Linked DNA regions of Homo sapiens: region 2 is linked to region 1. Evidence: fine-mapped expression QTL. A gene starts in region 1. The other region holds a variant in brackets. All regions are shown on one strand. Distances are between the middles of the regions.

What was found. PIP is the estimated chance that this variant, and not a neighbour inherited with it, causes the effect.
Region 2: its variant is fine-mapped to the expression of TRPM4 in whole blood (TOPMed, PIP 0.95).

Annotation. Positions count from the first base shown.
Region 1 is chr19:49,154,214-49,166,279 of GRCh38, forward strand. It overlaps TRPM4 (transient receptor potential cation channel subfamily M member 4), which reads left to right and starts at 3,579. Exons shown (of 25, transcript NM_017636.4): 1 at 3,579-3,677; 2 at 3,979-4,046; 3 at 11,828-12,002. The coding sequence starts at 3,654. It overlaps HRC (histidine rich calcium binding protein), which reads right to left and starts at 1,183. Exons shown (of 6, transcript NM_002152.3): 1 at 1-1,183. The coding sequence starts at 1,024. RefSeq lists enhancers at 3,313-3,934, 11,114-11,757, 11,758-12,066 and a silencer at 4,618-4,804.
Region 2 is chr19:49,191,730-49,208,370 of GRCh38, forward strand. It overlaps TRPM4 (transient receptor potential cation channel subfamily M member 4), which reads left to right. Exons shown (of 25, transcript NM_017636.4): 17 at 4,711-5,145; 18 at 8,571-8,703; 19 at 8,882-9,056; 20 at 10,235-10,412. Among named protein-coding and RNA genes, the nearest start is that of TRPM4, 42 kb to the left of the region's middle. RefSeq lists a silencer at 5,030-5,356. The variant G/A (reference allele first, on the strand shown) is at 7,085.

The sequences.
Region 1 (12,066 bases):
CAGGGACATGATGGTGGTGTTCACCTGAGACAGCCTCAACCTCTTCCTTTCTGTGGTCTTGGTGCCTGTGGGCCTGGTGTCCATACTCAGTGGAGACATCATCATCATCATTGTCATCTTCTTCATGGCTTCGGTGCCTGTGGCTGGGGTCGCGATGATGGTGTCCATCTGAGACATCTTCATCCTCTTCAATCCCGTGGCCTTGGTGCCTGTGAGCCTGGTGTCTATATTCAATGGAGACATCATCATCATCATCATCATCATCATCATCATCATCATCATCGTCATCTTCTTCATGGCCTTGGTGCCTGTGGCTGGGGCCATGATGATGGTGTCCATCTGAGACATCCTCATCCTCTTCACTCCCATGGCCTCGGTGCCTGTGGGCCTGGTGTCCATACTCAGTGGAGGCCTCCTCTTCCTCCTCCTCCTCCTCCTCCTCCTCTTCTCCTTCATCATCTTCCCCATCATGGCCTCGGTGTCCATGCCTGAGGATATGATGGTGATGCTCACTGGACACAACTTCATCCTCATCCTCGTCTTGATGGCTGTGGCTCCTGTGGCTGGGGAGGTGGTGCCTGTGCTCAGCTGAGTCTTCCGTGTCTTCACTCCCGTGGCCTCTGTGCCCACGGGCCTGCCCACCATGCTCTGCAAAGACCTCCTCACCTGAGACACCCTCATCTCCGACTTTGTGGTCTTGGGACCTGTGGCCTGGGAGTAGGTGCCCATATTCCTTGGAGACATCTTCATCCTCCTTTTCACGGTCTGGGTGGCTCCAGAAATGATGCCCATTCTCTGTGGAAACATCCTTGTTCTCATCTGGATGGTCTCTAGGGCTGTGGAGGTGGTGGCGAAGCTCTGCTGATGCCTCCTCGGAGAGCCCGGCGACTCCAGTGCTGTTGTTCCGGTTTCTGAAGCCTAGCCCATCCCCTCTGAGCTGCTGGGTCATGGCCGGGGGGAGGAGCAGGCTGGCCACCCCAGCCCAGAGGACAGAAGCGTGCAGCCATGGCCTATGGTGGCCCATGGGGACGGACAGGCAGCACTGGCTCCAGCTGCCTCTGCGGCAATGTGGACAAACGTTGGGGTCTTTGTCCCTTTGGGGTTGGTCTCTTTTTTTCTCTGTGTCTCTCCTTTGTCCTTTCGGTCTCTGTCCACCTTCCTCTGGTCCTTGCTGCCTGGCTCTGGACACCCCTCTGAGGCTGTCTCCGGAGCCCCCTGACCCCCCTCTGGGGCCCTCCCTCCCCATTCCCCAGCCAATAGGGTCCTTCCCCTCCCCTCTCTCCAGCTAAATTTACTCTCAGCCCTGAGTTATTCTGGGTCAGTCCCCGCCTGCCTGCCTCCTGCTCCTCCTCCTCCCAGCTGGGGAGGGGACCAGTGAGGGGTCTCTCCCTGGCCAGGAGACGGTGGCCAAGGGACTTGACTTTGAACTACCAACAAGCTCACGTTTGGCAGCTGCAAAGACAAAGGCTAGACTTTTAGCAGGTTTTTGGGGGAGCCTGGGGCACCTGGGGGAGGCAGAAGAGACTTATCAGAGGGGAGAGACTCCTGGGACGGAAGGACTGGGGGTTCGATTGCGGGGTGTTTCCAGCTGGAATGATACGTGCTGGTGAGAGAGTGATGTCAGTATTGAGGCCCTAGAATGGGGGGAAAGGAACATGGCCCCCAACACACGTGCCCATGACCTCCTGTCCCTGGAACTCAGATCTGGGGGCAGGGACTGGGCTAGGCCAGGGCTATAAATACAGCTGGGAGGGGTAGGGGGACTCAGGTTACGGAGGCCACAGCTGTCCCCATCACAGAGGGCTGGCAGGAGACAAGTGGCCTTGCCCGTCTCTGTGTGTCAGTATTTCCTACTCCTCACCCTTCATGACTGCCCCCACTAGGGTCTCCTTTCCTGTTCACGGGTCCTCCTCTCTCTTCAATTCTGTCATCTGCTCTCTCAGGGTCCCTGTCCCTCCTCCATGGGATTGCCTCTCCCTCTCACTCTGGGCTTCTGTCCCACTCTTATCTTAGTGTCAGTCCTCCCCCAAGTCTGTGTCCCTCTCTCTCCCCTAAATCTCTGGCCCCTCCTTTCTGAGTTCCTGCCCTTCCCCCAATTCTTTGGTTTTTGCATCCCCCTCTGCCCCTTGCCTCAGTCAAGGTGTCTCCTCCCCATCTCTGGCATCCACCTCTCTGGGTCTCTGTCCCCACTCTCTCTCAGAGTCTCTGTCCCCCTCTGTCTCAGAGTCTCTGTCCACCTCTCCCTGGGTCTCTGTCCCCCTCTCTCTGGGTCTCTGTCCCCCTCTCCCTGGGTCTCTGTCCCCCTCTCTCTGTGGATCTCTGTCCCCCTCTCTCTGGGTCTCTGTTCCCCTCTCTCTGTGGGTCTCTGTCCCCCTCTCTCTGTGGATCTCTGTCCCCCTCTCTCTGGGTCTCTGTTCCCCTCTCTCTGTGGGTCTCTGTCCCCCTCTCTCTCTGGGTCTCTGTTCCCCTCTCTCTGGGTCTCTGTCCCCCTCTCTCAGGGTCTCTGTCCCCCTCTGTCTCAGAGTCTCTGTCCCCCTCTCTCTGGGTCTCTGTCCCCTCTCCCTGGGTCTCTGTACCCCTCTCCGTGGGTCTCTGTCCCCTCTCCCTGGGTCTCTGTCCCCCCATCCCTGGGTCTCTGTCCCCCCCTCTCTGGGTCTCTGTCCCCCTCTCTCTGGGTCTCTGTCCTCCTCTCTCTCTGGGTCTCTGTTCCCCTCTCTCTGGGTCTCTGTCCCCCTCTCTCTGGGTCTCTGTCCCCGTCTCTCTGGGTCTCTGTCCCCCTCTCTCTGGGTCTCTGTCCTCCTCTCTCTCTGGGTCTCTGTTCCCCTCTCTCTGGGTCTCTGTCCCCCTCTCTCTGGGTCTCTGTCCCCGTCTCTCTGGGTCTCTGTCCCCCTCTCTCTGGGTCTCTGTCCCCCTCTCTCTGGGTCTCTGTCCCCTCTCCCTGGGTCTCTGTCCCCCTCTCCGTGGGTCTCTGTCCCCTCTCCCTGGGTCTCTGTCCCCCCCTCCCTGGGTCTCTGTCCCCCCCTCTCTGGGTCTCTGTCCCCCCCTCTCTGGGTCTCTGTCCTCCTCTCCCTGGGTCTCTGTCCCCCTCTCTCTGTGGGTCTCTGTCCCACTCTCTCTGGGTCTCTGTCCCACTCTCTCTGGGTCTCTGTCCCCTCTCCCTGGGTCTCTGTCCCCCTCTCTCTGTGGGTCTCTGTCCCCCTCTCTCTCTGTCTATCCCTGGGTCCCTGCTGCCCCACCTTCTGATTCTCTGTCCCCTAAGTCTTTGTCTCCCCCTCTTTGGGTTAAATTGTCCCCTCCCTGTCTGGCATCCTCCTTTCTGAGTCTGTTCCCTCTCCGCCACTGGCCCCCAACTCCTTCTGTTCCCATCTCGCGCTTGCCCTTGGAGTCTCCCCTGTGTGTCTCTCTCCCCCCGGCCCGGACCTCTGCACCCCCCAGGTCGCTGTCCCTCTGTCCCCTTATCGCGGCCTGGGACCCGCCCTCTCCCCGCCTCCCGCTTTGGCGTCTCCAAGACTCCCCGCCCCCCAGACCTCGCCCCGCCCCAGGCTAGGCTGGAAAGTGGAGGATCCGGTTTGCTCTGGGCGGGTCTGGAAGCAGAGCCGGCGGAGGGAGCGCCGGGGCCCTGGGCTGCAGGAGGTTGCGGCGGCCGCGGCAGCATGGTGGTGCCGGAGAAGGAGCAGGTGAGCGCCGGACCAGGGTCTGCGGGAGCGCGGAGCTGGGGACCTCGCCTCCAGGCTCCCAGAGAGGAGGGCGCTGGACACCCAGATTCCTGGGTCAGACGGAGGAGGGGGATGGGAGGGTCCAGGTTCCAGGGTCCAGGGCATGGGGGTCGAGACTCCTGAGTCTGGAGCGGGAGGGCGCTGGGGGCCCGGACTCCTGTGTCCGTGGGGAGCGCACGGGGTGGGTGGCTCTGTGTCCCATAGGACAGAACTGGGTGCCCTCTCACCCCACTTCCACCCCTACATTTGTTCCTGTCCCCAGAGCTGGATCCCCAAGATCTTCAAGAAGAAGACCTGCACGACGTTCATAGTTGACTCCACAGATCCGGGGTGAGGAGTTCGCCCCTGGACTGACCCCAGAGGGTCCGCGGCCCGCTGACCCCGCCCGCGGATGGTCACGCCCCAGCCCTGCTCCTTCCCCATTCCTGGACTCGGGGACCTTCCCAAGGGCGTTCCTTGCCGACGCTCTCCCTCTAGGAGCGTTTGGGTCTGTGTAGACACCCCTCATTCCCCATTCGCCATTCTCCCGCTCAGGGTCAGTGTAGACGCTCCAGGGCTCGGTTCTGCTTCTTTCCTCCCCGATGTCTCTTCTATGTGCTTCTGTCTCTTCGTGTCACTTTCTGTGTCTCTGTCTTTCCCTTTTGGGTATTTCTGTTTCATTCATTCATTCATTCATTCATTCATTCATTCATCCATCCATGCAAGAAACCCTCACTCAGCGCTCCCAAGGTCCCTTTAGCCTAATTCAACGGCCCTGCCAGGGTTCCAATTTCCCCTGGGACACGTGCTGTGTGGCTTCGGGCAAATCATTTCACCTCTCTGGGTCCCGTTTCTCATCTGGGCATCAAAAGAGGCTTGATCTCCTGGGGTTATTATGAGAATTAAACAAGTTAATGCTTGTGATATTCCTGGCACAGCGCCCAGCACAGGACGCTGGGAAATATCTGCAGCTCCCACTGGGAGGTGGCAATTATTACCGCGGGCGGGCCCTGTCTTGGTGGCCGGGGACACCAATTGAGCTAGATAGGGTGTGTGCGTCCGCGAGGAGCTCCCGCCCTTCAGTGACGGCCTCTCAAGCGGATCCAGGCTTTCTAGTTTTTTTTTTTTTTTTTTTTTTTTTGAGACGGTGTCTCGCTCTGTCCCCCAGGCTGGAGTGCAGTGGCGCGATCTCGGCTCACTGCAAGCTCCGCCTCCCGGGTTCACGCCGTTTTCCTGCCTCAGCCTCCCGAGTAGCTGGGACTACAGGCGCCCGCCACCACGCCCGGCTAATTTTTTGTATTTTAGTAGAGACGGGGTTTCACCGTGTTGGCCAGGATGATCTCGATCTCCTGACCTTGTGATCCGCCCGCCTCAGCCCCTCAAAGTACTGGGATTACAGGCGTGAGCCATCGCGCTGGGCCAATTTTTTGTATTTTTTTTTTAGTAGAGACGGGGTTGCACCGTGTTAGCCAGATGGTCTCGATCTCCTGACCTCATGATCCGCCGGCCTCGGCCTCCCAAAGCGCTAGGATTACAGGTGTGAGCCACCGCACCTGGCCCAGGCTTTCTAGTTTTTTGTTTTTTGTTTTTTTGAGACAGAGTCTGGCTCTGTCGCCCAGGCTGGAGTGCAGTGTTGCGATATCAGCTCACTGCAACATCCACCTCCTGGGTTCAAGCAGTTCTCATGCCTCAGCCTCCCTAGTAGCTGGGATTACAGGTGCCTACCACCATGCCCAGCTAATTTTTTGTATTTTAGTAGAGACGGGATTTCACCCTGTTGCCCAGGTTGGTCTTGAACTCTTGATCTCAGGCAATGCACCTGCCTTGGCTTTCCAAAGTACTGGGATTACAGGTGTGAGCCACCGCGCCCAGCCCTCTAGTTGTTTTTCAAGACAGTTTTTGGGGTGCGGGAAGTATCCACATTCCTACTTCAGTGTGTATTTTGTTATGACTATATATTAGTGCAGTATGGCTTGTAAATGATGGATAAATAAACAGATATGCGCTTGTTGGACGTGAGTGCTCAAAACCTTTTTACTGATAGGTCAGTGTGGTCAAGACAATTTAGGAAACTCTGGTCTGGCCTGAGGAGGAAGAAACGCAGAAGATAATTATAGTAAGGCAAGGGGTTGCAGCTCCCAAAGACGAGCCACTGGGCTCTGTGAGAGCTGGGAGGAGGTGTTTGCTTAAGACTGGGAGGGGACACAAAATGTCACTAATGGTTTCTGGAGGGAGGAAGAGTGGCTAGTGAGGTGACATTTGAAAGTGAGCTGGAGAGAGGCCCATGGAAAGCGATTTGGGGCCGGGCATTGTGGCTCACGCCTGTCATCCCAACAATCTGGGAGGCCGAGGCGGGTGGATCACCTAAGTCAGGAGTTCGAGACCAGCTTGGCTAACATGGTGCAACCCTATCTCTACTAAAAATACAAAAATTAACTGGGCGTATTGGCGCATGCCTGTAATCCCAGCTACTCAGGAGGCAGGAGAATCACTTAAACCTGGGAGACGGAGGCTACTATGAGCAGAGATCACGTCACTGCACTCCAGCCTGGGTGACAGAGCAAGACTCCATCTCAAAAAAAAAAAAAAAAAGAAAGAAAGAAAGAAAAAAGTGATTTGAACAGCATGTGCAAAGTCCTTGCTAAGGACCATATGGTTTGGCTTGAATATGAATCAAAGTTCAGGGTGCAGGGAGCACTGTCATGAGAGAAGAGGCTGCAGAGGAGGGCAGGGCCAGAGCTTGCAGGGTGTCAGAGGCCACCCTAAGGGGCTGGGATCTTGTCCTTGGGAGCTGGGGCATCACCGCAGCAGTGGGGTTGGCTCTGGGTGTGGAAAAACTTTCTGGGGCTGGGAGAGGATGAACAGGAGCTCGGGAGGAGGCTGTAGAGAGCGTCTGAGCGGGAGGGGTAGTGGCCTGAGCCAGGTCAGGGCTTTCGGGACACAGAGAGGAGGGCATGGGGCAAAGACTCAGGGGGCAGGAAGGCAGAGCTTGGGGCTTGATGAGGGTGATGAGGGAGAGAGGGGGTGCCGCCATCGGTGGATGGCTCCGGGACGTATGCTCTGCTGACTGGGACACAGTGGGGCTGTCCCTGAGATGGAGAGCTCAGGAGGGCAAGCAGGTTTGGGAAATGTCGCTGAGTGCAATGTGGGAATCTGTGCATATGAGCGGCCTAGGGGGACCGAGGGGCATGTGGGGACTGAGATTGGGAAAGGTCTGGACTAATGTCCAGAATCTGAGAGGTCCGAGTTGTAGCTGGTAATTGAAACTGGAAGTAGGTAAGACGTCACAGGGAAAACAACGTGTAAAGTCAGGGGAGTTGCAAACTGGCAATTCTATAGCCAATTGTGTGCGTGTGTTTGTGTGTGTGTGTGTTTAGAAGAGCATTTAAAAATATCTGTCTTCTGTCTCTCTCTCTTTTTTTTTTTTTTTTTTTTTTGAGACAGGGTCTTGCTCTGTTGTCCAGGCTGGAGTGGCACGATCATGGTTCACTGCAGCCTTGACCTGCTGGGCTCAAGCGATCCTCCCACATGAGCCTCCGGAGTAGCTGGGACCACAGGCATGCACCACCATGCCTGGCTAATTTTAAAATTTTTTGTAGAAACCGGGTCTCCCTTTGATACCAGACCAGGCTGGTATCCAACTCCTGGACTCAAGTGAGCCTCCCACCTCACTCTGCCTGCCAAAGTGCTGGAATTACAGGCGAGAGCCACCATACCCGGCTACCTCTTTTTTTTTTTTGAGACGGAGTCTCGCTCTATCACCCAGGCTGGAGTGCAGTAGTGCGATCTCGGCTCACTTCAACCTCTGCCTCCTGGGTTCAAGCGATTCTCCTGCCTCAGCCCCCCGAGTAGCTGGGATTACAGGCACCCACCATCACGCCTGGCTAATTTTTGTACTTTTAGTAGAGACAAGGTTTCACCATGTTGGCCAGGCTGATCTCGAACTCCTGACCTCAAGTGATCTGCCCACCTGGGCCTCCCAACGTGCTGGGATTACAGGTGTGAGCCACTGCTCCTGGCCCTGGCTACTTCTTTCTGTTGAGTTACTTGACTGGCCTCTGCACACATTGGGTTTGAGAATCATGTAGGGAAGGCTTGCACTGGGAACACCTACACTCAAGGGAGGTGAAAAGCAAGAGAAAGCCACAAACAAGTCAGGCATGAAGCAGCCGGGGCGGGGAGGAAGGCCAGAGGGGCAGGGGTATCCTGCCAAGGAGAGGGTTTCCAGAATGAGAGCCTTTCAGCTGTAGCCAGGGCCACTTGTGATACAGTCAGATGAAACCTGAATAAGGGCCGTTGTATATGGAGCCAGGCAGGAAATTGATGATTTTTATCAAGAACAATTTCAGGCCAGGCACAGTGACTCACAGCTGTAATCCCAGCAGTTTGAGAGGCCGAGGTGGGCTGATCACTTGAGGTCAGGAGTTTGAGACCAGCCTGGCCAATGTGGTAAAACCCCATCTCTACTAAAAATACAAAAACTAGCCAGGTACTGTGGCACATGCCTGTAATCCCAGCTACTCAGGATGCTGAGGCACGAGAGTCGCTTGAGCCCAGGTGGCAGAGGTTGCAGTGAGCTGAGATCGTACCACTGCATTCTAGCCTGGGAGACAGAGCGAGACTCCATCTCAAAACAAAACAAAACAAACAAACAAACAAAAAAACAATTTATTTCAGTTTCTGTGGCTCCACCGAGGAAAGAGTGTAGGAGGCAAGCTGTGCAGAAGGAATGGCTCCTAGCACTGAATGTCAGAATTTTCCACGATTTTGGAAACGTTCTATGTCTACATCCAATATGGCAGTCCTGGCCACAGGGGGCTACTGGGCACTTGGAATATGGCCATTGTACCTGAGAAACTGAATTTTTTTTTGAGGTGGAGTCTCGCTCTGTCGCCCAGGCTGGAGTGCAGTGGTGCAATCTTGGCTCACTGCAACCTCCGCCTCCCGGGTTCATGCCATTCTCCTGCCTCAGCCTCCCGAGTAGCTGGGACTACAGGCACCCGCCACCATGCCAAGCTGATTTTTGTATTTTTAGTAGAAACAGGGTTTCACCATGTTGGCCAGGCTGGTCTCAAAGTCCTGACCTCAGGTGATCCGCCCACCTTGGCCTCCCTAAGTTCTGGGATTACAGGCATGAACCACTGCACTTGACCTGAATTTTTTATTTGATTTAATTTTAACTTATTAGAACAGAAAGAGCTCCATGGCTACAAAGAACCCATGCAGCTATCACATTGGACAGTACAAGCTCCAGACTATTCCGTGAAGAGCTTTTATTTTATTATTATTATTTTTTTTTTTTTTTGAGGCAGAGTCTCATTCTGTTGCCCAGGCTGGAGTGCAGTGGCACAATCTCTGCTCATCACAACCTCCGTCTCCCAGGTTCAAGTGATTCTCCTGCCTCAGCCTCCTGAGTAGCTGGGACTACAGGCGCGTACCACCATGCCCGGCTAATTTTTGTATTTTTAGTAGAGATAAGGTTTCACTATGTTGGCCAGGCTGGTCTCGAACTCCTGACCTCATGATCCGCCCGCCTTGGCCTCCCAAAGTGCTGGGATTACAGTCATGAGCCACCATGCCCGGCCTTATTTCTTATTTTTAGTGACATGGTCTTGCTCTGTTGCCTAGCCTGAACTGCAGTGGTGTGATCATGGCTTATTGCAGCCTTGAACTCCTGAGCTCAAGTGATCCTCCTGCTACAGCCTCCTGAGTAGCTGGAACCACAGGCGTGCACCACCACACCTGGCTAATTAAAACAATTTTTTTTGTAGGGATGGGGTCTCGCTCTATTGCCCAGGCTGTTCTCAAACTCCTGGGCTCAAGCAGTCCTTCTGCCTTGACCTCCCAAAGTGCTTGGATTGTGCCCAGCCGTCCTTGAAGTTTTGCTCAGAAGAGCAAACTTTCTGGGAAGTAGCTGCAGGTGTTGGAAGTAGCTGCAGGGGAACTAGGGGATTCAAGGATGGAGCTGAAATGGGTGAACGGACAAAGTCGGTAAACTGAGGCATGCCAGGGCCCTGGAGGTAGACTCAGGAATGAAGAAGACACTTTATTGTAGTTCTCACTGTGCCAGGACCTGGCCTAAGTGTGTTTGGTTCATCCCATGTGTGGATCAGTTAGCCGTTCTTTTAGTGTCTTTACGGCTTTTGCCAAATCCTTGTAGCACCTCTGCTATCCCTTCTGTAAAATTGCTCTTAAATCTGCTCACTAGGTTTGTGTAAATACAGGTCTCCCCTGATATCTGAACTCCTGGAATCTGGAACAAAGAATTTAGATACATTTTTCTCCTTCTTTCTTCCTTTCTCTTTCTTTTCTTTTCTTTTCTCTCTCTCTTTCTTTCTTTCTCTCTTTCTCTTTCTTTCTCTCTCTTTCCCTCCCTCCCTCCCTCCCTTCCTTCCTTCCTTCCTTTCCTTCCTCCCTCTCTGTCTCTCTCCCTCCCTCCTTCCTTTCTTTCCTTAGTTTTTTTTTTTTTTTTTTTTTTTTTTTTTTTTTTGAGATGGAGTTTCGCTCTTGTCTCCCAGGCTGGAGTACAATAGTGTGATGGCTCACTGCAACTTCTGCCTCCTGGGTTCAACCAATTCTCCTGCCTCAGCCTTCTGAGTAGCTGGGATTACAGGCACCCGCCACCACGACCAGCTAATTTTTGTATTTTTTTTAGTACAGACAGTGTTTCACCATGTTGGCCAGTCTGGTCTCAAACTCTTGACCTCAGATGATCCACCCGCCTCAGCCTCCCAAAGTGCTGGGATTACAGGCATGAGCCACTGCGCCCGGCCTCTTGCTTGCTTGCTTGCTTGCTTGCTTGCTTGCTTGCTTGCTTTTCTTTCCTTCTTTTCTTTTTTTTGAACAGGGTCTCACTCTGTTGCCCAGGTTGGAGTGCAGTGGCGTGGTCACAGCTCTCTGCATCACTGCAGCCTTGATCTCCCAGGCTGAAGTGATCCTCCTGCCTCAGCCTCCTAAGCACATGCTGCCACACCTGGCTAATTTTATTTTATTTTATTTTATTTATTTATTTATTTTTAGAGACAGGGTCTGACTATATTGCACAGCTGGTCTCGAACTCCTGGGTTCAGGTGATCCTCTGGCCCCAGCCTCCCAAAGTGCTAGGATTACAGGCATGAGCCATCATACCCGACCCTACATTTTCAAATGAATTTCTCATTCTCCAAACCCCTGTTACTTACTCAGGTGCCAATCACCTTTAGAAAGCAAGAGAGACTTGTGCATTTCTTTAGGTGGGGGAAAGTTTTATATGTGGAAACTTTCCAAATGGAAACCTGTTCCATTTGGCACAGAGAGGAAGAAACAAGCCACACAGAAGCCAAAGACAATGAAAAGCAAACAAAGGTGTTTCCCTACTCGCTAGATGGCTGTTGCCAGCTCCATTTTTTGAGCCCGAGGCCTGCTTTTCTTGTTCAAAAGAGTAGCAAAGGGTTAGGCATTCAAAAATATTCTAGCACCCGGCTGAGCCTCTCTCCTTGACAGTCGTCAGGAGAACTGAAAAAGGAATGACTTTCTCACTGCGTTATTCAAGGTTATTTTAAGCTCCGTGTGAAGTTCGTGTCGCGTTGCCTCTGGCTGGGACTGGTATGCGAGCCTCATTTCAGGAAACACGGCGTTCTTTCCCTGGCTCCTCATAGCTCCGTGGAGTAGGCCGCGCTATTATTGTCTTTTCATTAGAGGAGGAAATTTAGGCTCAGAGAGGTGAAGCCGCTCGCCCAAAGTCACACAGCCGCGTCAGCCCCGAGCATGCGGGCTCTCCCTGAGTTACCCGCTGGATGTTCTTTCTCGTGTTGAACGTCATGTGTTTGGATGGGGGCACAGGGCACAGCAAGGATACCCCCAGTGGCCCTCTGCCTTCCCACTTGAGGCTCCTCAGGTGACAGTGACCTGCTTCTTCCTGCTCAGGCTTTCTGGACTCACTGGCTTCCTTCCCGTGGGGAAAGGGGACCGTCCTCGGCTCCAGTCTCTCCCCGAGGCCGTCAGAGCCAGGGCCAGGGGCAGCGTGGACTCTGCCTGCCTCTGTGGGTGTGGACTCAGTGTCGACAGCCCCCTCTACAGGAGCATGAACACGCTGACAGGGTGCTGGGGTCGGGGGGCAGCCCTGGGTTCACGCTCCGCCCTCGCACCCCCAGAGGGACCTTGTGCCAGTGTGGGCGCCCCCGGACCGCCCACCCCGCAGTGGCCATGGAGGATGCCTTCGGGGCAGCCGTGGTGACCGTGTGGGACAGCGATGCACACACCACGGAGAAGCCCACCGATGCCTACGGAGAGCTGGACTTCACGGGGGCCGGCCGCAAGCACAGCAATGTGAGGCGGGCCTCTGTGGGCGGGGCCCGGGCACCAGGGGGCTGCATGCTCGGGGCTCCAGAGT
Region 2 (16,641 bases), 40 kb after region 1:
CCTTGTGATCCGCCCGCCTCAGCCTCCCAAAGTACTGGGATTACAGGCATGAGCCACCATGCCTGGCCCAGGGATTACATTTCAATGTGAGATTTGGAAGGGACAAACATCCAAACTATATCACACGTCCCATCAGGGACTGAGATACTGAGGAAGCTTCCCAGGTGCCAAGCTCAAGACTTGGCTCAAGATTTGGTTCTGCCATCAAGGAGGCCATCACCAGAAATTGATTTTCTTCATGCTACACATACTTCCATCCCTCTGTAGCAAGCGGAATCAGTTGATTGAGGGATTTTTCACCTATTTTGTTCGTGGTCCCAAGGCCCCTGCTTTTAATCACTATGCTATGGTTGCCGTTAAGGTATTTTAAAAGTCAGGCCTAAGCAAATGAAATAGAATATTTATCAAACTTCTTTTTTTGTTGTTGTTTTTGAGGCGGAGTCTTGCTCTGTCGCCAGGCAGGAGTGCGGTGCCGCGATCTCATCTCACTGCAACCTCCGCCTCCTGAGTTCAAGCGATTCTCCTGCCTCAGCCTCTCAAGTAGCTGGGATTACAGTCACCTGCCACCACGCCCAGCTAATTTTTTTGTATTTTTAGTAGAGACGGGGTTTCACCATGTTGGCCAGGATGCTCCCCATCTCCTGACTTTGTGATCTGTCCTCCTCAGCCTCCCAAAATGCTGGGATTACAGGCATGAGCCACCATGCCTGGCCTATATATAGTTTTTTAAGACAATGTAGAGAGGATACAAAATATTTATCTGTAGCCATAAAAAAGAACGAGATCATTTCCTTTGCAGTGACATGGTTGGAGCTGGAGGCCATTATCCATAACAAACTAACAGGAACAGAAAACCAAATACCCCATGTTCTCACTTATAAGTAAGAACTAAATGATGAGAACACATGGACACACAGAGTGAAACAACACACATTGGGGCCTATTGGAGGACAGAGGGTAGGGCGAGGGAGAGGACCAGGAAAAATAACTAGTGGGTACTAGGCTAAATACCTGGGTGATGGAATAATCTGTACAACAAACCCCCATGACACAAATTTACCTACCTAACAAACCTGCACATGTACCTCTGAACTAAAAATAAACGTCAAAAAATAAAAAAAAGAACAAAATATGTATCAAGAGAGAAGGGAAAAACTAAGATAAACATTTGGACCACTGAGAAAGGTTGATAGAAGGCCCCAGTGTCTGAGGTCAGGATCAGTAATGGTGTCCTTCCCTAGCAATTTCTCATCTGCACATGTGATGATGATGACGACCTTGATAACAGCTGATGTTATGAAACACGTACAATGAGCAACTACTGTGCTCAATTCTTTTGAAAATCAGTTGGTTTTTTTTTTTTTTTTTTGAGATGGAGTCTTACTCTGTCGCCCAGGCTGGAGTGCAGTGGCATGATCTCGGCTCACTGCAAGCTCCTCCTCCCGGGTTCACACCATTCTCCTGCCTCAGCCTCCTGAGTAGCTGGGACTACAGGTGCCCGCCACCACGCCCGGCTAATTTTTTTGTATTTTTAGTAGAGCTGGGGTTTCCCCGTGTTAGCCAGGATGGTCTCGATCTCCTGACCTCGTGATCTGCCCGCCTCGGCCTCCCAAAGTGCTGGGATTACAAGCATGAGCCACCGCACCCGTCCGGAAATCAGTTCGTTTAATTCCAACAACCCAGTGCAATAGGGCCTATAATTATTCTCATTTTGCAGGTGAAATAATGGAGTCATTCAGTCACTTGCCTCAGATCATGTGGTTGGTAAATGGTAGAGCCGAGATTTGATCCCAGATCCTCTTGTACCTGAGTCTGTGCTCTCAGCCCCTGTGGAGCCCCCCCACTGAGAGCTCTGTTGAAGGACAGATCCCAAGATCCCCCCAGAGAGGCTGGGGCTGAGCCCAGGAACCTGCCTGTGGCCTGGCTGGAGGTGATTCAAGATGGCAGATGTGGGGGAAGCTTTCTGACCCACCGCTCTCCCTTCTTACCAGGATTCTGCAGGAGAACTGTGAAATACCATGATGGTTTTCTCTATCAGTAGGGAGCTTGCTGTCCTCTCTGCATCTGACCTTCTTTCTCTAGGAGTTCTTAGTTTCTGTAGCTTTCACTATTCTCCTCCTTCTCCTCCTCCTTCTCCTCCTTGTCCTCCTCCTTGTCATCCTCCTTCTCCTCCTCCTCGTCATCCTCCTTCTCCTCCTCCTCTTCATCCTCCTCCTCCTTCTCCTCCTCTTCCTACTCATCCTCCTCCTCTTCCTCCTTCTCCTCATCCTCTTTCTCTTCCTCCTCCTCATCCTCCTCCTGCTCCTGCTCCTCCGCCTTCTCCTCATCCTACTTCTCCTCTTCATCCTCCTCCTGCTCCTGCTCCTCCGCCTTCTCCTCATCCTACTTCTCCTCTTCATCCTCCTTCTCCTCTTCCTCCTCTTCATCCTCCTCCTCCTGCTCCTGCTTCTCCGCCTTCTCCTCATCCTCCTTCTCCTGCTCCTCCTCCTCCTGCTCCTCTGCCTTCTCTTCATCCTCCTTCTCCTTCTCCTTTCTTCTTCTTTGAGACAGGATCTTGATCTGTCACTCAGGCTGGAGAGCAGTGGCGCGATCATGGCTTACTGCACCCTCAACCTCCCAGGCTAAGCCATCCTCCCACCTCAGCCTCTCAAGTAGCTACAGATGCATGCTATGCTCGGCTAATTTTTATATGTTTTGTAGAGATGGGGTTTCGCCATGTTGCCCAGGCTGGTCTCAAATTCGAAGGCTTAAGTGATCTTCCCACCTCGGCTTCCCAAAGTGCTGGGATTACAGGCATACACCACTGCGCTTGGCCTCACTTATTTCCTTCCTTCCTCCTTCCTTCCTTCTTTCCTTCCTTCCTTTCCTTTCCTTTTCTTTCCTTCCTTCCTTTCTTTCCTTCCCTTTCTTTCTCTCTCTCTTTCTCTCTCTGTCCCTCCCTCCCTTCCTTCCTTCTTTTCTTCCTTCCTTCCTCCCTCTCTTTTCTTTCTTTCTCTATCTCCTTCCCTCCCTCCCTCTCTCCCTCCCCCCAACCCTTCCTTCCTCCCTTCTGAGACAAGGTCTCACTCTGTTGCCTCCGCTGAAGTATAGTAGCTTGATCTTGGCTCACTGCAGCCTCAACCTCCCAGTGTCAAGTGATTCTCCTGCCTCAGCCTCCTGAGTAGCTGGGACTGCAGGTATAAACACACCTGGCTAATTTTTTTTTTTTTTTCTGTAGAGATGGGGTTTCACCATGTTGCCCAGGCTGGTGTTGAACTCCTGGGCTCAAGCAATCTGCTCACCTTGGCCTCCCAAAGTGCTGGGATTTCAGGCTTGAGCTACCACGCCCAGCCTCACTTTTTTTTCTTTTTTTTTAAATGGCAGCTTTATTGAGCTGTAATCCACATATCATACCGTTCACTTACTTAAGGTATACAATTCAGTGCTTCTTGGTGTACTCACAGAATTGTGAAATCATTTCCACAATTCATTTTCAAATATTGTCATCACTCCAACAAGAAACTCTGTACATGCTTAGCACTGCTTTTCGTTTTCCCAGCCCTAGGCCACCATTCATGTACCTGCTGTCTCTGGGTTTGCCTGTTTTGCACACTTCACATAAGTGGAGCCATGCACTCTATGGTCTTTTCTTCTTCTTCTTCTTTATTTTTTTATTTTTTGAGACGGAGTTTTGCTCTCGTTGCCCAGGCTGGAGTCAATGGCGCGACCTCAGTTCACCACAACCTCCGCCTCCCGGGTTCAAGCGATTCTCCTGCATCAGCCTGTCAAGTAGCTGGGATTACAGGCATGCGCCACCACGCCAGGCTAATTTTGTATTTTTAGTAGAGACGGGGTTTCTCCATGTTGGTCAGGCTGGTCTCGAACTCCCGACCTCAGCTGATCTGCCTGCCTCGGCCTCCCCAAATGCTGGGATTACAAGCGTGAGCTAGCGCGCCCAGCCCGTTTCTACTTTAATTTTTTTTTTTTTTTTTTTAGACAGGGTCTCGCTCTATTGCCCAAGCTGGAGTGCAGTGGCATGTTCATGGCTGACTGCAGCCTGGGCCTCCTGTACTCAAGTGATCCTCCCATTTCAGCCTCCCCAGTAGCTGGGACTACAGGTGCTTGCCCCTACTACTGGCTAAATTTTTATTTTTATTTATTTTATTATTATTATTATTATTATTTTTGAGACAGAGTCTCACTCTGTCGCCTAGGCTGCAGTGCATTGCAACCTCTGCCTCCCAGGTTCAAGCGATTCTCCCGCCTCAGCCTCCCGAGTATGTGGGACTACTGGCATGCGCCACCAGACCCGGCTAATTTTTGTATTTTTAGTAGAGACAGGGTTTCACCATGTTGGCCAGGCTGGTCTCGAACTCCCTACCTCAGGTGATCTGCCCGCCTTAACTCCCAAAGTGCTGCGATTACAGGCGTGAGCCACCGCGCCCGATCCGGGTATATTTTTAAAATATTTTTTGTAGAGATGAGGTTTTGCCATGTTGGCCAGGCTGGTCTCCAACTCCTCGGCTCAAGCGATCAATCCACCTCTTGACCGGAGATTTCAGAGGTCAGAGGTTAGATACAAGAGTCAAAACCCAAGAAATTAGCTCTGGGCAGACTGAGTTTCGGGTCAGGCAGGGTGAGATGTGCCAAGCCAAAAGTCTCGATGATGGTGGAGATCAGGACTCAGAGGTCAGAGTGAGGCCTCCTCCCTTCTCTTCTCTTCCCCCACAGGACGGCGGACCCAGCCGAGAAGACGCCGCTGGGGGTCCCGCGCCAGTCGGGCCGTCCGGGTTGCTGCGGGGGCCGCTGCGGGGGGCGCCGGTGCCTACGCCGCTGGTTCCACTTCTGGGGCGCGCCGGTGACCATCTTCATGGGCAACGTGGTCAGCTACCTGCTGTTCCTGCTGCTTTTCTCGCGGGTGCTGCTCGTGGATTTCCAGCCGGCGCCGCCCGGCTCCCTGGAGCTGCTGCTCTATTTCTGGGCTTTCACGCTGCTGTGCGAGGAACTGCGCCAGGGCCTGAGCGGAGGCGGGGGCAGCCTCGCCAGCGGGGGCCCCGGGCCTGGCCATGCCTCACTGAGCCAGCGCCTGCGCCTCTACCTCGCCGACAGCTGGAACCAGTGCGACCTAGTGGCTCTCACCTGCTTCCTCCTGGGCGTGGGCTGCCGGTGAGTGCCCCGGGGCCTTGGAACCCTGGCCCCTGGCCACCTCTCATCCTTCCTGCCCACTCCCGGGGTCTCCACTCCCGGCTTCCCCGCAGCTGGGCAGCAGGTCAAGCCAACCCTGCTGATTGAGAACCCCTCTTAGGAAAGTCGGGCATGACGATTGCCCCAGGGTAATTGGCTGGCACCTGGAGATCTGGCTTCAGGGACGGCAGGATTCAGGAGAAAACCCCACTGTCCGCCACTCAGCCTCTGCTGCTATTTATTGCTAGGCCTGAAGTTTAACAGATATTTATGGGAGCGCCCCGACCTGGGTGCCAACCTCACCTCCTCCCTTCTCTTCCTCCACATAGCTCGTTGGTCCCAGGCCCCTTGCCCTCCTGCCCCCGACTTTTTCTTTCTTTCCTTTTTTTTTCTTTCTTTCTTTCTCTTTCTTTCTTTTTCTTTCTTTCTTTCTTTCTTTCTTTCTTTCTTTCTTTCTTTCTTTCTTTCTTTCTCTCTCTTTCTTTTCTTTCTTTCTCTTTTCTTTTCCTTTCTTTTCTTTTTCTTTTTCTCTTTTCTTTCTCTCTCTCTCCCTCTGTCCTCTGCCCCTCTGCCTCCCTCCCTCCTTCCTTCCTTCCTTCCTTCCTTCCTTCCTTCCTTCCTTCTATGCTTCCTTCCATCCCTCCAAGCTAAGGGTTTAACCCTTGCCCTGCCTGCATTATGGAGTATCCTGCATTAGGATACTCCTCCTTTTGAGGAGAGCAAACAGAAAAGTTTGTGGATACAACCTGGTGACTGGTTTTTTGTTTGTTTGTTTGTTTTTGTTTTCTTTCTTTTCTTTTTTTTTTTTGAGCCAGAGTTCCGCTGTGTCGCCCAGACTGGAGTGCAGTGGTACGATCTTGGCTCACTGCAACCTCCACCTCCTGGGTTCAAGCGATTCTCTTGCCTCAGCCTCGTGAGTAGCTGGGATTACAGGCATGCACCACTACACCTAGCTAAATTTTTTTTGTATTTTTTTTGTAGAGATGGGGCTTTGCCATATTGACCAGGCTGGTCTTGAACTCTTGGCCTCAAGTGATCCACTGGCCTTAGCCTCTGAAAGTGCTGAGATTACAGATGTGGGTCACCGTGCCTGGCCAACAACCTGGTGACTGTTTACAAGGGACCTGACACATCCTGAATGGTTGACAGTGATGACAGTGATGATCCCTACTCAAGCTTTTCCCAGTAGACACGCTGAGAGGCAGGCTTCCTCTAAGCTATGTTAGCAGTGTTACAAAGTGATTCAACATAAATAATTTATTCAAGCAGGGAGCAAGATATGAGAGTTTTGCAGAACACTAATACTTCTGTTTGTAATTTGTTGTATTTTGTATAAAGTGACTTTTGAGATGAAAGGGCTAAGGCCATATGCTACCATGCTCTAGGATTGCCAGTGATATTTTGGACAGTTTATCAAGCCTACCACTTTCCAGGTGAAAAATGGAAAGATCTCAGCTTAAAAGGGAGAAACGGGCCTGGCGTGGTGGCTCATGCCTGTAATCCCAGCACTTTGGGAGGCCGAGGCGGGTGGATCACCTGAGATCAGGAGTTTGAGACCAGCCTGCCCAACATGGTGAAACCCCATCTCTACTAAAAATACAAAAAATTAGCCGGGCATGGTGGCAGGCGCCTGTAATCCCAGCTACTCGGGAGGCTGAGGCAGGATAATTGCCTGAACCTGGGAGGCGGAGGTTGCAGTGAGCCAAGATCATGCCACTGCACTCTAGCCTGGGTGAAAAGAGCAAAACTCTGTCAAAAAAAAAAAAAAAAAAAAAAGGGAGAAATGTCTAATCATCTCCGGAATTGAATGGATGAATCATCCTTTGTTTCGCCAGTTCCCTCTAGATGGACATTTAGGTTCTCTCTTTCTTTCTTTTTTTGTTTTAAATAGAGACAGGGTCTCACTCTGTTGCCCAGGCTG[G/A]TCTCAAACTCCAGGGCTCAAGCAATCCTCCCACCTTGGCCTCTCAAAGTGCTGGGATTACAGGCGTGAGCTACTATGCTCAGCCTTCTGTTTTTTTATTATTCCAAAATAATAAAAGTTTACATCCCAGATGTAAAGTTTATGGGTCAAAGGGTACATTTATTTTTGACATGGATAGATTTCCTTCTAAGTAGCTTCACTCATTTCCACACCTGCCATCAGGGTAAGAGAGTGCCCCCTTGAGGCCATGCTCGACAATGCCTGATACTTTCACTCTAAAATGTAGCTCTCAATTTAACTGAAAAAAAATTTGCCAATTTAATGGGTAAACATGACCTCTCCTTGTTATAATTTATGCACTCTTGACTACCAGATAGGTTGGACATCTTTTCCTAAGCTTAATGGCCATATGTCCTTGTGCCCCCTTGTTTTTTTTTTGGTTTTTGTTTTTGTTTTTGTTTTTGAGACGGAGTCTCGCTCTGTAGCCCAGGCTGGAGTGCAGTGGCGCGATCTCGGCTCACTGCAACCTCCGCCTCCCGGGTTCACGCCATTCTCCTGCCTCAGCCTACTGAGTAGCTGGGACTACAGGTGCCTGCCTCCACGCCCGGCTAATTTTTTGTATTTTGTAGTAGAGACGGGGTTTCACCGTGTTAGCCAAGATGTTCTCGATCTCCTGACCCCGTGATCCGCCCGCCTCGGCCTCCCAAAGTGCTAGGATTACAGGCGTGAGCCACTGCGACCGGCCACCCTCCCGTTTTTTTAATTGGGGTTCATTGATTTGTATATGTATAAATGTATATACTCCTTATACTCTGGATCCTAATCCTCGGTAGTTTTGTTGGTCTTAATATCTTCATATCTTCTCGAAGTCTGTGGCTTGTCTTTTCACTTTCACTTTTGTATGTTTCTTTTCTTTTCTTTTTTTTGAGCCTGCCTCGGCCTCCCAAAGTGCTGGGATTACAGGCGTGAGCCACCGCGTCTGTCCATACACTAGGTTTTTAATCCATCCAAAGTTTAAGTACATGAGGATGCAAAATAGGGGTAGAATTTTTATTTTCCCCATAGGAATTATTGATGTTTACTGGCCGTTTGAACGTCCTCTGTGAATTGTACGTGGTATCCTTTATCTGGCTTCCTTCCTTTTGCGTATTAGTTTGTAAGGACTCTATATGTTTTGCCTTTTATAGGTTGGACAGATATTCCGGCAGTTTTTCCAGCTTGATTCTTACAGGGACCAGCTCTTTGCTAAGGCCATCGTTCATTCAGTCATTACTTAATAGGCGCAGCCATTTTAAAAATGGGTGCCAGGGCCCTGCATGGACCAGCTTGGTACTGAATAAATTTGAGTAAACCCCGGGTGACTGGGAGGGTCCTGGTCCTGCCCGGTGGAGGCTGCAGCTTCCTCTGAAGGATGGCATTGGGAAGACTTCCATTTTCCTTGGCGTCTTGTGACACTTGACCCTTGTGGCATCTCCCCACACCCCAGGCTGACCCCGGGTTTGTACCACCTGGGCCGCACTGTCCTCTGCATCGACTTCATGGTTTTCACGGTGCGGCTGCTTCACATCTTCACGGTCAACAAACAGCTGGGGCCCAAGATCGTCATCGTGAGCAAGATGGTGAGGCAGGGGCGGGGCCAAAGTGGGCGGGGACATAGGGAAAGGGGTGGGGCCAGGGAGGGAGTGGTCCGTGGAGAAGGGGCGTGACTTTGGGGAGCAATGGGGCGTGTTTTTGGGATATAGGGGTGGGGCCAGAGTAGGAAAGGGCGGGGCCAGACTCAGCCACATCTCCCCACAGATGAAGGACGTGTTCTTCTTCCTCTTCTTCCTCGGCGTGTGGCTGGTAGCCTATGGCGTGGCCACGGAGGGGCTCCTGAGGCCACGGGACAGTGACTTCCCAAGTATCCTGCGCCGCGTCTTCTACCGTCCCTACCTGCAGATCTTCGGGCAGATTCCCCAGGAGGACATGGACGGTAGGGGGGATGACGGCCTGACAGCCTTCCTCTGAGTCTCTGTCCCCGCTCCCTGGGTCTCTGTCCTCCTGGCTCTAAGAAAATATCTGTCTCTCTGAGTCTCTGTCTCCCTCTTTCTCTGGATCTCTGAGTGATACCCTATATTCCCCATCATCATCTCTCTGGGTCTCTGCCTACCCCACCCCCTCTGTCTTTCTGTCTGTCTTTCTTTTTTCTTTTTTTTTTTCTTTTTTTTTGAGATGGATGTTAGAAATGTTTATTTTGTGGTGTCGTAAAGAAATAGTACTTGAACATAAATTTAATTTTTTTAGTAAAGCCATTTTTATTTTTTGTAGAAAGGGTACACTCGCCAGCAGTTTTGTCATGAGAGTACACGGAACAAAGGAGATAGGGTCATTTATAACCTGACGCGTCTATTTTACTGCTGTGTCTGGTTTTTATTGGCTGGAACCGGACTTTACATTTTGTATTTGTCTTGATTGGCTAGTAACTTAGAAGTTTTTAAAAGAAGCGAAGGCAGAGGAGAACAAAGGAAGGAGGAAGTAACTTGTGGAATGTTGAGAAAGGTAAAAACACTTTTAAATAAGGAAGAGGAACAGGCTATGATCTAATGCTTGCTTGAACCAGTATAAGTATGTCAGGGCAAATATTTAGGCTAAATTGTGAGAGCTAAGAACATAAAGTACATTGATTTATTTTTTATGGCTAGTAGATATTTAAGAATGTTAGCACAGGTGTTTGAATAAATTTTGTTTCTAAGAGAAGTTACTATTTATTGTTAATTAGATGGGGAGGAAAGTCTTTGAAGAGGAACCTGTACTTTACTTTTTACATGGAGTTTTGCTCTTGTTGCCCAGGCTGGAGTGCAATGGCACGATCTCAGCTCACTGCAACCTCCACCTCCCAGATCGAAGCGATTCTCCTATCTCAGCCTCCCGAGTAGCTGGGACTACAGGCGCGTGCCACCACGCCTGGCTAACAGTTTTGTGTTTTTAGTAGAGATGGGGTTTCATCACATTGGTCAGGCTAGTCTCAAACTCCCCACCTCAGGTGATCCGGCCATCTCAGCCTCCCAAAAGTGCTGGGATTACAGGCGTGAGCCACCGCGCCCGGCAGTCTTCCTGTCTTTCTTAGGTCTCTGTCCCCCTCACCCCATCTCTGAATGTCTCTCTTCACAGTGGCCCTCATGGAGCACAGCAACTGCTCGTCGGAGCCCGGCTTCTGGGCACACCCTCCTGGGGCCCAGGCGGGCACCTGCGTCTCCCAGTATGCCAACTGGCTGGTGGTGCTGCTCCTCGTCATCTTCCTGCTCGTGGCCAACATCCTGCTGGTCAACTTGCTCATTGCCATGTTCAGGTGAGGCCTGACTGCTCTCTGATCTGACCCCACCCAGCATGACCCGTGGCCCTCTCATGACTCTTGAACCCCGTCTAATGAATTCTGTTTTTAGTCCCTGAACTCTGATCCAATCTAATGCTGCCTTCTCCCCAAACCCAACCAGACCCTGCTTGTAATTTGGACTTTGGACTGATCCTCTCCCTGAGCCCAGGTTGAACTTCCTTATTTGTATTTTTTTGAGACAGGGTCTCACTCTGTCGCCAAGGCTAGAGTGTGGTGATGTGATCGTAGCTTACTGCAGCCTCGACCTCCTGGACTCAAGCAATCCTCCTGCCTTCGCCCCATAAGTAGCTGGGACTACTTAAAATTAGCCAGGCCAGCAGGCCTGCCTAATTTAAAAAAATTTTTGGAGAGAGGGGTCTCACTATGTTGTCCATGCTAGTCTCGAGCTCCTGGACTCAAGTGATCCTCCCTCCTCAGCCTCCCAAAGTGCTGGGATAATCTGTCACCTAGGCTGGAGTGTAGTGGCAAGTTCTCAGCTCACTGCAACCTCCACTTCCCACTCCCCCATACCCAGTTAATTTTTTGTATTTGTAGTAGAGATAGGGTTTCACCATGTTGGCCTTGAACTCTTGACCTCAAGTGATTGGCCCACCTCAGCCTCCCAAAGTGTTGGGATTACAGGTGTGAGCCATCGCGCCCAGCCAACTTTGTTTTTTATTGTGGTAAAATTATATAAAATTTTCCATTTTTACTTCTTTTTTTTTTTTTTTTTTTTTGACGGAGTCTCGCTGTGTCACCCAGGCTAGAGTGCAGTGGCACGATCTCACAATCTCAGCTCACTACAAGCTCCGCCACCCGGGTTCACGCCATTCTCCTACCTCAGCCTCCTGAGTAGCTGGGACTACAGGTGCCCGCCACCACGCCCAGCTAATTTTTTTGTATTTTTAGTAGAGACGGAGTTTCACCGTGTTAACCCGGATGGTCTCAATCTCCTGACCTCGTGATCCACCCGCCTTGGCCTCCCAAAGTGCTAGGATTACAGGCGTGAGCCACCGCGCCCCGCCTTTTTTTGAGATGGAGTCTCGCTCTGTCGCCCAGGCTGGAGTGCAATGGTGCAATCTCAGCTTACTGCAACCTCCACCTCCCAGGTTCAAGCGATTCTCCTGCCTCAGCCTCCCAAGTAGCTAGGACTACAGGCGTGCGCCACCACACCTGGCTAATTTTTTGTATTTTTAGTAGAGATGGGGTTTCACCGTGTTAGCCAGGATGGTTTCGATCTCCTGACCTTGTGATCCGCCCGCCTTGGCCTCCCAGAGTGCTGGGATTACTGACATGAGCCACCGCGGCCGGAGTTGATTTTTACCATTTTTAAGTGTACAAGTCAGTGACATTAATTACATTTACAGTACTCTCCAACCATCACCACTATCTATTTTCAATACGTTCTATCACCCAGAACAGAAAGTGTGTCCCCATGAAACAGCAACTCCCCACTTCCCCTCCCCACAGGTCTTAGTAACCTCCAGTGTATTTTCTGTCTCTATGGATTTAGTCTAGATGTTTCATGTAAGTGGAATTATGCGATATTTGTCTTTTGGTGTCTGGCTGATTTTACTGAGCATGTTTTCAAGGCTCATCCCTGTTGTAGTGTGCATCAGAACTTCATTCATTCCGTTTTATGAATGAGTAATATTCTATTGTACAAATAGACCACATTTGGGCCCAGCGTGGTGGCTCATGCCTGTAATCCCAGCACTTTGGGAGGCCTAGGCGGGTGGATCACCTGAGGTCAGGAGTTCGAGACCAGCCTGGCCAACGTGGCAGGACCCCCTTTTTACTAAAAATACAAAAATTAGCTGGGCTCATGTCTGTAATTCCAGCTACTTGGGAGGCTCAGGCACGAGAGTCGCTTGAACCCAGGAGGCGGAGGCTACAGTGAGCCAAGATCGTGCCACTGCACTCCAGCCTGGGCAACAGAGCGAGACTCCATCTCAAAAAAAGAAGACCACATTTGATTTACCCGCTCATCTGTTGATGAACACTTGGGTTCTTTCTGCCTTTTGGCTATTGTGACTAATGTTTGTTGGAACATTGGCATGCAAGTATCTATTTGAATCCTTGTTTTTATTTCCTTTGGGTGTGTATCTCAAAGTGGAATTCCTCGGTCATGTGGTAATTCTATGTATAGCTTTTTGAGAAACCACCAAACTGGTTTCCACAGCAGCTGCACCATTTTCCATTCTCACCAGCAGTGTATGAGGGTTTTAATTTCTCCACATCCTAGCCAACACTTGTTATTTTCCTTTTGTAAAAATTATAGTCATCCAGCTGGGTGTAGTGGCTCATGCCTGTAATCCCAGCACTTTGGGGGGCTGAGGTGGGAGGATTGCTTGAGCACAAGAGTTCGAGACCAGCCTGGGCAACATAGCGAGGCTGCTGTCTCTACCAAAACACCAGAAATGAGATACCACTTCACACCTGCAGCCTCAACCTCCTGGGCTCAAGTGATCCTCCCACCTCAGCCTCCCAAGTAGCTGGGACTACAGTTACGTGCCACCATACCTGGCTTGTTTTTTTAATTTTTTTTTTACTTTTATTTTATTTATTTATTTTTAGTAGAAACGGGGTTTCACCATGTTATCCAGGATGGTCTCGATCTCCTGACCTTGTGATCCACCCATCTCGGCTGGATCCCAAAGTGCTGGGATTACAGGCGTGAGCCACCGTGCCCAGCGGCTATTTTTTTTTTTTTTAATGAAACTCCTTTTTAATCCTATGTTAGGTCTCTCTGTTTGCTTCCTTTCTTGTTGGCATGATTTTTGCTGAGAAAATATAAAATTTCATTGGCTTTGGTTGTTTTTTTTTTTTTTTTTTTTTCAGAGATGGGGTCTTACTATATTGCCCAGGCTGATCTTGAACCCCTGGGCTCAAGCAGTCCTCTTGCCTTGGCCTTCCAAAGTGCTGGGATTATAGGCACAAGCCCCTGTGCTGGACCTATTGTATTAGTTTCCTAGGGCCGCCAGAGTACCAAAAACTGTGTGGCTTTAAATCACAGAAATTGTCTCACAATTCTGGATGCTAGAGGTCCAAAATCAAGGCATCCGTCAAGCTGTTTTCTTCTGAGGGATGTCGGGGAGAGTCTGTTCCATGCCCCTCCTGTCACGTCTAGTGCTTTGCTGGCCATCTTTGGCTTCTAGTTGCGTCATTGAAACTTCTGCTTTCATCTTCCAGATTTCCCCTTTTAATAAAACGTTACTTAAATTGGATTAGGGACCATGCTAATAACTTCATTTTAACTTGATCACATGTGTAAACTCTATTTCCGAATAAAGCCACATATTTCATAAATAAAAAATTTAAAAAGGTCTCATTCTGAGGCACTATGGGTTATGACTTCAACTTTTTTTTTTTTTTTTTTTTTTTTTTGGAGACAGAGTCTTGCTCTGTCACCCAGGTTGGAGTGCAATGGCGTGATCTCGGCTCACTGCAACCTCCACCTCCTGGGTTCAAGGGATTCTCCTGCCTCAGCCTCCCGAGTAGCTGGGATTACAGGTGCCTGCCACTATACACAGCTAATTTTTGTATTTTTAGTAGGGACGGGGTTTCACCATGTTGCCCAGGCCGATCTCAAACTCCTGACCTCAGGTGATGCACCTGCCTCGGCCTCCCAAAGTGCTGGGATTACAGCCGTGAGCCACTGGACCCGGCCGGACTTCAACATATCTTTAGCGGGATACAATTCAATGCATGACACTCATAGATTTATGAGTTTATTTCTGGACTTTCAATTCTATTCCACTGGATTGCGTCTATCCTTATGCCAGAACCACACAGTTTTTTGGGTTTTTTTTGAGACGGAGTCTCGCTCTTGTCACCCAGGCGGGATTGCAGTGGCACGATCTCTGCTCACTGCAACATCCGCATCCTGGATTCAAACGATTCTCCTAACTCAGCCTCCTGAGTAGCTGGGATTACAGGCACCTGCCACCACGCCCGGCTAATTTTTTTGTATTTTTGGTAGAGACAGGGTTTCACCATGTTGGCCAGGCTAGTCTTGAACTCCTGACCTCAGGTGATCTGCCTCGGCTTTCCAAGGTGCTGGGATTACAGGCGTGAGCCACCATGTCTAGCCCACACAGTGTTGATTACTGTAGGTTTGTAGCAAATTTTGACATTGGAAGTATGAGTCTCCTTTGTTATTTTTCAAGATTGTTTTGGCTATTCTGGGCCTCCTGCAATTCTATATGAACTTAAAGATCAGAGTTTCCATGTCTGTCAAAAAGGTTGTTGGAATTTTCTTTTTTTTTCCTTTTTTTTTTTTCTTTTTTTTGAGACAGAGTTTCACTCTTGTTGCCCAGGCTGGAGTGCAATGGCGCGATCTCAGCTCACCACAACCTCTGCCTCCCGGGCTCAAGCGATTCTCCTGCCTCAGCCTCCTGAGTAGCTGGGCTTATAGGCATGTGCCACCACGCCCGGCTAATTTTGTATTTTTAGTAGAGACAGGGTTTCTCCATGTTGGTCAGGCTGGTCTCGAACTCCCGACCTCAGGTGATCCACCCGCCTTGGCCTCCCAAAGTTCTGGGATTACAGGTGTGAGCCACCGCGCCCGGCCAGTTGTTGGAATTTTCCGAGGGATTGCGTTGAATCTGTAGATTGCTTCGGGTAGTATTGATATTTCATCTAGGTGTTCTTTTTAATGCTTTTCCAGCAGTATTTGGTAGTTTTCAGGCTACAAATTGTTCACCCTTTTGGTTAACTTTATTCCTAGGTGCTTAACCTTTAGATACTGTTGTAAGTGGAATTGCTTTCTTAATTTCCTTTTTGGATTGTTCATTGCGGGTGTGTAGAAACACAACTGATTTTTGTGTGATCTTGTACCCTGCAACTTTGCTGAATCTGCAGCCCTAGAAGCTTTCTTGTGATTCTCTGGCATTTCCTATATATAGGATCATGTCATCTGTGAATAGAGATATTTTTACTTCTTCCTTTCCAATTTGGATGCCTTTTATTTTTTTTCTTGTTTAATTGTTCTAGCCAGAACTTCCAGCACAATGTGGAATAGCAGTGGTAAAAGTGGACATCCTTGTCTTGTCCCTGATCTTAGGCAGAAAGCTTTCACTCTTTCACCATTGGGTATGACGGTAGCTGTGGGTTTTTCAGAAGTACCTTTTCTCATGTTGAGAAAGTTTATTTCTATTCCTAGTTTACGATTTTTAAAAATTATGATGCATGGTGGCTTGTGCCTGCAATCACAATACTTTAGGGAGCCAAAGTGGGAGGATCACTTGAGGCCAGGAGTTCAAGACCGACCTGGGCAACATAGTGAGACCTTATCTCAATAAAAAAATAAAAAATTTGCCAGGCGTGGTGGTGCATGCCTGTAGTCCCAGCTACTCAAGAGGCTGAGGTGGGAGGAAGGCTTGAGCCCAGGAGGTCAAGGCTGTGGCTTCAGTGAGCCATGATTTCACCACCATCATGATTGTGCCACCAACAGAGTGAAACCTTGTCTCAAAAAAAAAAAAAAAAAAAAAAAGCCATGCATGGTGGCTCAAGCCTGCAATCCCAGCACTTTGGGAGGCCGAGGTGGGCAGATCATGAGGTCAGGAGATCGAGACCATCCTGGCTAACACGGTTGTAGGGGCCAGCCCTACAAGGTCTGTGGGTTTTTCTCCCCGTGTGCAGAGACAAGAGATTGTAGAAATGAAGACACAAGACAAAGAGATCAAAGAAAAGACAGCTGGGCCTGGGGGACCACTACCACCAAGACGTGGAGACCGACAGTGGCCCCTAATGCCTGGCTGCGCTGTTATTTATTGGATACAAAGCAAAAGGGGCAGGGTAAAGAGTGTGAGTCATCTCCAATGATTGATAAGGTCACGTGAGTCACATGTCCACTGGACAGGGGCCCTTCCCTGTTAGGTAGCCAAGGCGGAGAGAGAGAGGACAGCTTACATCATTATTTCTTCTATGCTCTTTTAAGAAAGATCAAAGACTTTAATACTTTAATACTTTCACTAATTTTGCTACTGCTATCTAGAGGGCAGAGCCAGCTGTACAGAGTGGAACATGAAAGTGAAACAGGAGTGTGACCGCTGAAGCACAGCATCACAGGGAGACGGTTAGGCCCCTGGATAACTGCGGGCGGGCCTGACATCAGTCAGGCCCTCCACAAGAGGTGGTGGAGCAGTCTTCTCTAAACTCCCCCGGGGAAAGGGAGACTCCCTTTCCCGGTCTGCTAAGTAGT